2 separate regions of the Homo sapiens genome follow, and region 1 is linked to region 2. Evidence: fine-mapped expression QTL. A gene starts in region 2. The other region holds a variant in brackets. All regions are shown on one strand. Distances are from middle to middle.

Region 1 (5,517 bases), 43 kb before region 2:
TCCATTAGTCACCAGCTGTGAATACACCCAACTGTCCTGTCTTCACCCCACATTTTTCCTTCTTATCTACAAGGACATCTCACGCCAGGGCATTCTTCAACAAAACAAGACTGCATTCTGAAATTCTTTTTGGAAACAGGGAGTGGGGAGGAGAAGGGAGTGGGAACGAAAGGAGAGGAGTTTGACCTTTAGATCTTCTCCTCCCTTCTCCCCAGCCCCCAGGATGAGCCCTGTGGCTTCAGTCTCCAAGAAGGAATTTTCCAACCAACAGCTCAGATGTAGAAAGTTGAAATAACTGGACTATAGGGTCAGAAAACCTGCATTCAGATCCATCTCTGCCTCTTCCTAGCTGGATGACCTTGGTTGAAGGGTTTAACATCTCCGAGTCTGTTTGCTCATCTGTAAAATAGGGACAGGACGATTACACCTACCTCACAGAGTTGTTGTAAGGATTAAATGAGAAGATGTATGTGAATGTGCTTCGGAAACTGTAAGCATTATACAAATGTCAGATATTATTATTATGACTGAGTGCCTACTGTGTTCCTCAGTATAGGCTATAAAAAGATAAATACGACATAGTCTTTGCCTTCAGGGAGCTCACAGTTCTGTAGCAGAGATATGTTCACAAATAGCCGTGGTATAAAGTATAACAGGGCAAAATGGCCCAAGTTATTACAGTAATTCAGAAGAGGGAGCAGGCCCTTCAGACTGGGGGGAACCAAAAGAGAGGCTTCAAAGAGTTTGATCTGTACCCTGACAAATGGGATGGATCTGACAGATGGACACGGCTGAGAGAGGACAGCATTCCAGGTGGAGGAGTCTAGGGATGGGTATTTATGGAACGCGTCTGCGGTGCTGGAAGCAGGCCTGTTTGATTGTAAGAAGTAATGAGGCTGGTCAGCCACATCACAACTTTTTTAGACACGGTCATTTTCAGCATGCCCAGGGTAGAGCATTCAGTCCTTCAGAAGGAGGACTAGAATTTAAGCAGAGCCTCTGAGGTCTCATGTCTGTTGTTCAACTGACCTCCTTGGAGAAAAACAACTCTTCTGGAGGGTGGTGGCATCCAGAAAGGTTCTAGGAAAATCACCTTTTTCCTTTTCTGAAGCTGAAAAATAGGTCTCTGGGAAGAACAGGGACTAATGCCACATTTAAATCCTAAAAATCGGCCAGGCGCGGTGGCTCACACCTGTAATCCCAGCACTTTGGGAGGCCAAGGCGGGTGGATCACCTGAGGTCAGGAGTTCTAGACCAGCCTGGCCAACGTGGTGAAACCCTGTCTCTACTAAAAATACAAAAATTAGCTGGGTGTGGTGGCGGGCACCTGTAATCCTAGCTACTCAGGAGGCTGAGGCAGGAGAATCGCTTGAACCCAGAGGCAGAGGTTGCAGTGAGCCAAGATCACGCCATTGCACTCCAGCCTGGGCCACAAGAGTGAAACTCCTTCTCAAAAAATAATAATAATAAATCCTAAAAATCTTCAGCTGGAAGTGGCTCTGGCTTAAGAATTCAAGAGTTTTCATTGAAGGAGGGTCATCTGCCATATCTGAAAGGCTTCATATTCTTCAATTTCATGTGGGGAGTGGGGAGGGAGAGGAAAATAGTTCAAGGGCTCTCAAGGTCCATTTCCTGATGGTTTCTTCGGACCTATGGTTATGATTTGGTGCCACCTGGTGTCCGAGACAGAATATAGCGCCCTTGTGTAGAAGCCGCCTTCCCCCTCCTTCCTAAATCAAGAGCATTGAACTGCTTCCCAGCATCTAGGGATGGGGCTATCTTCCTTCCAGTAGGATAGAACCAGCCATTCAGAGGCACTCTGGGGTCTGTGTAAATGGAAAAGAAGAGGAGGAAAGGGAAAGTCCTGAACCAGGCCTCATAGCCATCCTTTCCTATGTTACCAAAGTTTATATTTTTCCCTAGAGTACCCCTGGGGTAAATAGAGTATCTTCCCCCAGAGTACTTTCCCCAGAATACTACAGGACTGGGTTTGCCATGTCCCTCTCTCTCTACCCCCACACATTCTCTTATGATGACTTGAGTATCCACAAAAGATTATTACAACACCTCTCTCTCAGACGTGACCAAGAGAAATTGTCATGATTGTCTAGGGTGGCCAAGGGAGGAGCAGTAAATGAGTCTTGTTCCCCCTGAGCTCAAGTTTAAATGTTGTTTCTTCCTGAGTGGGCTATACTATTCTAGAACGACTGAGCTAGAATAGCTCCTCCATAAGAAACCTGTTTATTGAAACTACACTTAGAATTCCTACAGCCCCTCTTAAAGGTTAGGGGAGGGAGAAACGGTGCCTCAGATAACAGAACAGATGGTGGCCCCCTTTTCCCTCAAGCCCCATTCCTAAATAGATTCAAAAGGATCAATAAAACTGACACTGAGGCTGGGTGCGGTGGCTCACACCTGTAATCCCAGCACTTTGGGAGGCCGAGGTGGGCGGATCACTTGAGGTCAGGAATTTTTGAGACCAGCCTGGCCAACGTGGTGAAAACCCGTCTCTACAAAAAATACAAAAATTAGCTAGGTATGGTGGCGGGTGCCTGTAATCCCAGCTACTCTGGAGGGTAAGGCAGGAGAATCACTTCAACCTGGGAGGCGGAGGTTGCAGTGAACCGAGACCGCGCCACTGCACTCCAGCCTGGGCGACAGCCTGAGACTCTGTCTCAACAACAACAACAACAAACAAACAAACAAAAACTGGAGTGGTCTGATGATAACTTATAAAGGAGTATTAGTAGAGCATAGTTTGAGGGGATGGCTTGAACTGGGATGGCCAGAGCTGAGCAAGGACAAGACTGAGCTAATGAAAAGGTTAATCCTTCTGCTACTACTTCCATTCCTAGGTACCCTTAAAGTCTGAGTTTCTGTTGTGCCCACTCAGGCTCTTCTGGGTGCTGGAGAATCCTGGACCAGCTCTCAGTTTGGATTGTCAATTGCAGGTGAGGGGCATGAAAATGGCAGAAGTGCAAAAGAAAGAAACCATCAGCTAGATTTGAATGCTTCGATTCATGGATCACTACTTTTATTTGCCTCAGTTCTTCCCTGGTCCCTATATTACAGGGCTGCCAGAGTGCATGCCCTCTAACTGTACCGGCTAAGAAGTAAACAAATTCCTTTTTATCTTTTAGTTAAGACAAGGCTGCAATTTTTGAAAAGTAACATTTGCTAGGACACTAATGAATAAGAAAGTAACCAAAAGAGGTAACAAGAGAACACACAAACAAATGGGCTTACAGTGTTCACATTTCTTATCTTGTATCAACTAAAGTTTAACCATAGTTGGCCGGGCCTGATGGCTCACACCTGTAATCCCAGGACTTA[C/G]GGAGGCCGAGATGGGCAGATCACCTAAGGTCAGGAGTTTGAGACTAGCCTGGCCAACATGGTGAAACCCTGCCTCTACTAAATAAAAATAAAATAAACCCCATCTCTACTAAAATACAAAAATTAGCTGGGCATGGTGGCACACTCCTGTAACCCCAGCTACTCGGGAGGCTGAGGCTGGAGAATAGCTTGAACCCGGGAGGTGGAAGTTGCACTGAGCTGAACCACTGCACTCCAGCCTGGATGACAGAGCGAAATTCCATCTCAAAATAAATAAATAAATAAATAAATAAATAAATAAATAAATAAATAAAGCTTAACCACAGAGGAGGCCAGGCGCAGTGACTCACGCCTGTAATCCAAGCACTTTGGGAAGCTGAGGCAGGTGGATCACCTGAGGTCAGGAGTTCGAGACCAGCTGGGCCAACATGGTGAAACCCCATCTCCACTAAAAGTACAAAAAATTAGCCAGATGTGGTGGCAGGTACCTGTAATCCCAGCTACTTCGAAGGCTGAGGCAGCAGAATCACTTGAACCCGGGAGGCGGAGGTTGCAAGGAGCCGAGATCGTGCCATTGCACTCCAGCCTGGGCAACAAGAGTGAAAACTCCATCTCAAAAAAAAAAAAAAAAATCATAGAGGAAGTTATCTGGTACAATGTATAGGGCACCTAAGCAAATCCTTTTTTGCCAGGGTAACCTTTCCCAACTCATGAGAGGTCAGAGGTTAGACAAAGCTGCGTAGACCCGAACCTGAAGGTTGGTGCAAAAGTAATGGCGGTTTTTGCAATTACCTTTAACGGCAAAAACCGCCATTACTTTTGCACCAGCCTAACAGATCTAGTGAGTTTCACAGTCCCTGGTGGAATCGGTTTCCCATACTGCTCTCAGTGCAGAGACCCTAGTGGGTGCCTTCTGTCCTGGCACGTGCTGCTTTCCGGTTCTGCGGTTACCCTGGCCCTTGGGTTTCCCCCACCCTCCTCCCATCCTTTTCAGGCTCCCGGAAAGAGAAGACCCCCAGTGAAACTCCACCCCTTCACATAGTTTTGATGACTTAGGACATGTGTTCGGACAAATACAAAAAAATGTGCTTACGATTCTAATTAGAAAAAGACACTTAGAATTGAGACTGCTTCTGAAAATCTGATCCTGTGCTGGCAGTTCCTGTTGTTCTCAGCTAGTATTTCGTTTTAGTCCCCTAAAGTGGCCATGTGACCTTGATAGCAAACGCCATCTTTCTGCGGAGCCCGCCTGAGCTGCGGCAAGCTGCTCTGACGGCTCGCTAGCAATCTGCCTTTTCCGATTTCAAAATCTTTAGACCGCCCACCAAAACCCTTTTTCCGGTCGGAGAGGCCCGGCAGGCTCTCAGGTCATTTGCGGAGCAAACGTGATTGACACGATCTGCGTCTAATGAATGTTCGTCTGCTTCCCAGCTCGGATTACTAGTTCCGCTCCCTTTCCCAGTTTGTTTTTGATGACTCATCCCTCAAATTCTTCACACACTCGCCTGATTCCCGCCCCTCCCGTCCTCTCTCTCCTCGCTCCCACTCGACGCCCACCCCCCACCTCCGCCGCCTCGCCCTAGGGAAGTGGATTTGGTGAATCCTATCGAGGATCGTTTTTTTACAGTGTATTTTGAACATATAGAAGCAAAAAGCACAATTTCCGTACAGGAAAGAGGAGGTTCATTTCCTTATAAGGAGCTTAACCCCTCACTGTTCTTTGAGCTTTTTCTCGTCCACAAGATCGGGGTGGGAGCAGGGGCAGGAGAAACGACAGCGGGGCTTTTGCCACTCAATTTCCAGTTCAATTCCAGAACCCCCGCAGCTCTGAGTCCCTAGCAAAGGTCAGCTGCCTTGCCCCAACAGCCGGCCCCACTGAGGGAGGAGTCCGGGGGAGTACAGTCAGGGTTGAAAGTTTACAAACATTTCTCTGGGTCTCGGGCATCTGCAGTGGGCACCTGCGGTGGGCACGTATGACAGTTTTGCCGGGGGCTGCAAATGCAAAATTGCAGCCCTAAAGAGGAAACAGACCTTCAGTCGTTAATAGGAGGAGGGGGAAAGGAAGGGGGAGTAAGAAAAGTAGGGAGCTGAGACTGAACTAACAAGCTCTTCTGGACCCAGACCCCTGAAATAGGCGAATGAATGGACTTCCACCTGCACAAGAAATCCTAGCTTTCCTGGATA
Region 2 (5,000 bases):
ATCCACCTGCCTCTGCCTCCCAAAGTGCTGGGATTACAGGCGTGAGCCACTGTGCCCGGCCTTTTTTTTTTTTTTTAAATATAATAGAGACGAGGGTCATGCTATGTTGCCCATGATGGTCTCAAACTCCTGGGCTCAAGCAATCCACCCACCTCAGCCTCCCAAAGTGCTGGGATTCGAGGCGTGAGCCACTGCGCCTGGCCTAGGTTTTGTTTGTTTGTTTGTTTGTTTGTTTGTTTGTTTGTTCGTCTTTTCCGAGACGGAGTCTCACTCTTTCCCCCAGGCTGGAGTGCAGTGACGGGATCTCCACTCACTGCAACCTCTGCCTCCTGGGTTCTAACAATTCTCCTGCCTCAGCCTCCTGAGTAGCTGGGATTACGGGTGCCCGCCACCACACCCAGCTAATTTTTGTATTTTTAGTACAGACGGGGTTTCACCATGTTGGTCAGGCTGGACTTGAACCCCTCAGTGATCTGCCCGCCTAAGCCTCCCAAAGTGCTGGGATTGCAGGCGTGAGCCCCTGCACCCAGCCGGTTATTCTTAATAATTCTCTGGCCACCTGTTCTAGAGTGTAACACATCTCACCACCTGAAGCATTTCTTTTCTTTCTTTGTTTCTTTCCTTTTTTTTTTTTTTTTTTTTTTTTTGAGACAGAGTCTCGCTCTGTCACCAGGCTGGAGTGCAGTGGCGCAATCTCGGCTCACTGCAATCTCCGCCTCCTGGGTTCAAGCAATTCTCCTGCCTCAGCCTCCCAAGTAGCTGGGATTACAGGTGCATGCCACTACACCCAGCTAATTTTTGTAATTTTAGTAGAGACGAGGTTTCACCATGTTGGCCTCGATCTGCTGACCTCGTGATCCGCCCGCCTTGGCCTCCCAAAGTGTTGGGATTACAGGCGTGAGCCACCTTGCCCAGCCCCTGAAGCATTTCTTTATGGCTAACTGTGGTGCCTAGTGCAGCAGCTTTGCATATAGAATCCCAGGCTTGGGAGAAAGGGCACCCATAGCCCTGCTTCCCCATGCTGGTTGGCACATGACATGAACTCACTAAGGCTTTTTATTTATTTATTTATTTATTTATTTATTTATTTATTTATTTAGCTAAATGAAGAAACCTTGTTCTGAGAAGTAACCTATGTCCTGTGGACTGTCCTTCTTTCCCCAGATTCTTTCATCCCATTTCCCAACTTTTGCAGTTGCTGTTACCCCACCCCTTTCCTCTACAGCATAGAGGACCACCCAGGGCTGAATATGAGGCTTCTTCCACAACCAGTTGCTCTGCTGTGGAGCATGCACTGGGGTCAGGAAATGACTCCAGGGATCACTGCACCTCCTATGGTCCAGGGCTGCATGTCCTCCTCACATTCAGTTTCCTGCTGCTAGTATGATCTCCTTGCAACTTAATGGCAGAAGTGGCAAGAGGTGGGAGAAGCCTTCTTAGCCTGCCTAAGGGATAGAGGAGAATTTCCTCCCTAGAGCAACTGGCAAGCTCCTGAAACCACGAGGTTGCAATATGCACTTGGGGTTGGGGGCTGGGCAGCAATGGGGTCTCAGACAGACCCTATAGGTCAACAACAGCATTGGGGACTGCTCAAGGTGGCTCACACCTGTAAACCCAACACTTTGGGAGGCAAAAGTGGGAAGATCGCTTGAGCCCAGGAGTTCAAGACCAGCCTGGGCAACATAGCAAGCCCCCCATCTCTACAAAAAAAAAAAATTGAAAAATTAGCTGGGCATGGTGACACATACCTGTGGTCCCAGCTAATTGAGAGGCTGAGGTGGGAGGATCGCTGGAGCCCAGGAGGTCAAGGCTGCAGTGAGCAGTGATTGTGCCACTGCACTCTAGCCTTAGTGATATAGCCAGACCTTGTCCCCACCCTCTAATAAAAAACAACCCACAGCATTAGGGAGAAAAAGGAGAGATCTTGGGTTTGACAGACCATTTATTCCCCCAAAGCAACTTTGTTATCTTTTCCTGAGAAGATTTTTTTTTTTTTTTGAGACGGAGTCTTGCTCTGTCGCCCGGACTGGAGTGCAGTGGTGCAATCTTGGCCCACTGCAACCTCTGCCTCCTGGGTTCCAGTGATTCTCCCACCCAGCAGCTGGGATTACAGGCATGCGCCACCACACACGGCTAATTTTTTGTATTTTTAGTAGAGATGGGGTTTCACATTGTTAGCCAGGATGGTCTTGATCTCCTGACCTCAAGTGATCTGCCCACTTCAGCCTCCTAAAGTGCTGGGATTACAGGCGTGAGCAACGGCGCCCAGCCTTTTTTTTTTTTTTTTTTTAATGGTTAGCCTTTGCTTTCTACAGACACTATCTGCAGAAGCACAGGGAGCCTGCTGTAGAAAGACTTCTGTCTCAGATACATTGTTTCATCCTACCTATCCTACCGCTTTGGAACGGTGTGACCTTGAGGAGTTACTTATCTGAGCTTCAGCTTCTTCATCTGGAAAATGGGATAACAGGCTTCCTAAATGGGTCGAAAGAAAAAATGTATGGAACAACGCTCAGCACAGTTTGTGGCTTCATAAATGAGCTCTCTTTCCTGTCCTCTTTCCTCTCCATATTCCGGAGAGGATCTAAGCCTCAGGGAAAATCCTGGTGACCTTAAGCTTCTGACGGGGCCATGGGGGAGGGCCTCAGCCCAGAGCCTCTGGGTCCCCTGGGGTCCCCTCTTCACATCCACCTGCCTGTGTTTTATCTCCCTCCCCCCGCCCCCCCGTGGCCATTCTTCTGGTGGGGCTATGGGGCGGGTGCGGCGATGGACCGGGCGGGCACAGAACAGGTGGGTGCAGGCTGGGTGTCCGGCGCTGGGACACAAGTGCTCTGTGTGTAGGGTGGGCGGAAGTCAGGGCGTTTGATCTGAATTCTAAAGGGCGTTGTTCAGAGCCCCACAAAGGTCTCATTGTGCAGACACTGGGTATAAAGCAGCATATGACTCCCCAGCACCGGGCGGTGATGAATTGGGACGCAGGCGCGGAGCCCAGGGACCACTCCCCCTGCACAGACATGAGACCATAGGGGACCTGTCTGGGTGGCCTCAGGGATAGGCGCTCCCCAAGGTAAGAGGGCTTTGTTGAGTTTGCCCCAGGTCTGGAGTTAAGGAGCTAGGGGACAGGGAGCCATAGGGGATGGCTGATATCGGAACAAGATGGGCTTGGCAAAGAAAGGGGCTGGCGGGAAAAGAATGTTGGATGAAAGCGAAGAAGGGGGATGGGGCTCAGGGAGGTCAAGTCAAGTGAGTGAGGAGGAGGAGAAGCTGGCAAGGGAGATGGGGTGACGAGGAAAGACATGACCATCCTTCCTTTCCTGCTACTGGCTCTTGGAAGAGTTGAGGGGGGGTGCGCAGGCAGTGCTATGGCGCCCGACTTTCCACCCCAGCTTTCTGACAGCTTGCTTCATGGCTGGTGTTTTGCAGGTGTGAATGAGGCAGGATGAACTGGACAGGTTTGTACACCTTGCTCAGTGGCGTGAACCGGCATTCTACTGCCATTGGCCGAGTATGGCTCTCGGTCATCTTCATCTTCAGAATCATGGTGCTGGTGGTGGCTGCAGAGAGTGTGTGGGGTGATGAGAAATCTTCCTTCATCTGCAACACACTCCAGCCTGGCTGCAACAGCGTTTGCTATGACCAATTCTTCCCCATCTCCCATGTGCGGCTGTGGTCCCTGCAGCTCATCCTAGTTTCCACCCCAGCTCTCCTCGTGGCCATGCACGTGGCTCACCAGCAACACATAGAGAAGAAAATGCTACGGCTTGAGGGCCATGGGGACCCCCTACACCTGGAGGAGGTGAAGAGGCACAAGGTCCACATCTCAGGGACACTGTGGTGGACCTATGTCATCAGCGTGGTGTTCCGGCTGTTGTTTGAGGCCGTCTTCATGTATGTCTTTTATCTGCTCTACCCTGGCTATGCCATGGTGCGGCTGGTCAAGTGCGACGTCTACCCCTGCCCCAACACAGTGGACTGCTTCGTGTCCCGCCCCACCGAGAAAACCGTCTTCACCGTCTTCATGCTAGCTGCCTCTGGCATCTGCATCATCCTCAATGTGGCCGAGGTGGTGTACCTCATCATCCGGGCCTGTGCCCGCCGAGCCCAGCGCCGCTCCAATCCACCTTCCCGCAAGGGCTCGGGCTTCGGCCACCGCCTCTCACCTGAATACAAGCAGAATGAGATCAACAAGCTGCTGAGTGAGCAGGATGGCTCCCTGAAAGACATACTGCGCCGCAGCCCTGGCACCGGGGCTGGGCTGGCTGAAAAGAGCGACCGCTGCTCGGCCTGCTGATGCCACATACCAGGCAACCTCCCATCCCACCCCCGACCCTGCCCTGGGCGAGCCCCTCCTTCTCCCCTGCCGGTGCACAGGCCTCTGCCTGCTGGGGATTACTCGATCAAAACCTTCCTTCCCTGGCTACTTCCCTTCCTCCCGGGGCCTTCCTTTTGAGGAGCTGGAGGGGTGGGGAGCTAGAGGCCACCTATGCCAGTGCTCAAGGTTACTGGGAGTGTGGGCTGCCCTTGTTGCCTGCACCCTTCCCTCTTCCCTCTCCCTCTCTCTGGGACCACTGGGTACAAGAGATGGGATGCTCCGACAGCGTCTCCAATTATGAAACTAATCTTAACCCTGTGCTGTCAGATACCCTGTTTCTGGAGTCACATCAGTGAGGAGGGATGTGGGTAAGAGGAGCAGAGGGCAGGGGTGCTGTGGACATGTGGGTGGAGAAGGGAGGGTGGCCAGCACTAGTAAAGGAGGAATAGTGCTTGCTGGCCACAAGGAAAAGGAGGAGGTGTCTGGGGTGAGGGAGTTAGGGAGAGAGAAGCAGGCAGATAAGTTGGAGCAGGGGTTGGTCAAGGCCACCTCTGCCTCTAGTCCCCAAGGCCTCTCTCTGCCTGAAATGTTACACATTAAACAGGATTTTACAGTAAATGAAGAGGTGGCTTGTGTGTTTGTCAAGTTCTTTCTCCTGCAACCTCTGACCTCCCCCAGGATGAGCTGG

Direction of the effects. Alleles are on the strand shown, and positions count from the first base shown. SD is a standard deviation of normalised expression in the study named.
With allele G in place of C in region 1, the expression in stomach of the gene that starts at base 2,956 in region 2 is lower (small effect, 0.15 SD a copy in GTEx).

The links.
Region 1: its variant is fine-mapped to the expression of GJB1 in stomach (GTEx, PIP 0.90).

Annotation. Positions count from the first base shown.
Region 1 is chrX:71,177,454-71,182,970 of GRCh38, forward strand. No RefSeq gene overlaps it. Among named protein-coding and RNA genes, the nearest start is that of NLGN3, 35 kb to the left of the region's middle. RefSeq lists enhancers at 4,480-4,529, 4,586-4,880, 4,930-5,019. The variant C/G (reference allele first, on the strand shown) is at 3,334.
Region 2 is chrX:71,220,269-71,225,268 of GRCh38, forward strand. GJB1 (gap junction protein beta 1) reads left to right here and starts at 2,956. Exons shown (of 2, transcript NM_000166.6): 1 at 2,956-3,067; 2 at 3,424-5,000. The coding sequence starts at 3,440. The coding sequence ends at 4,291.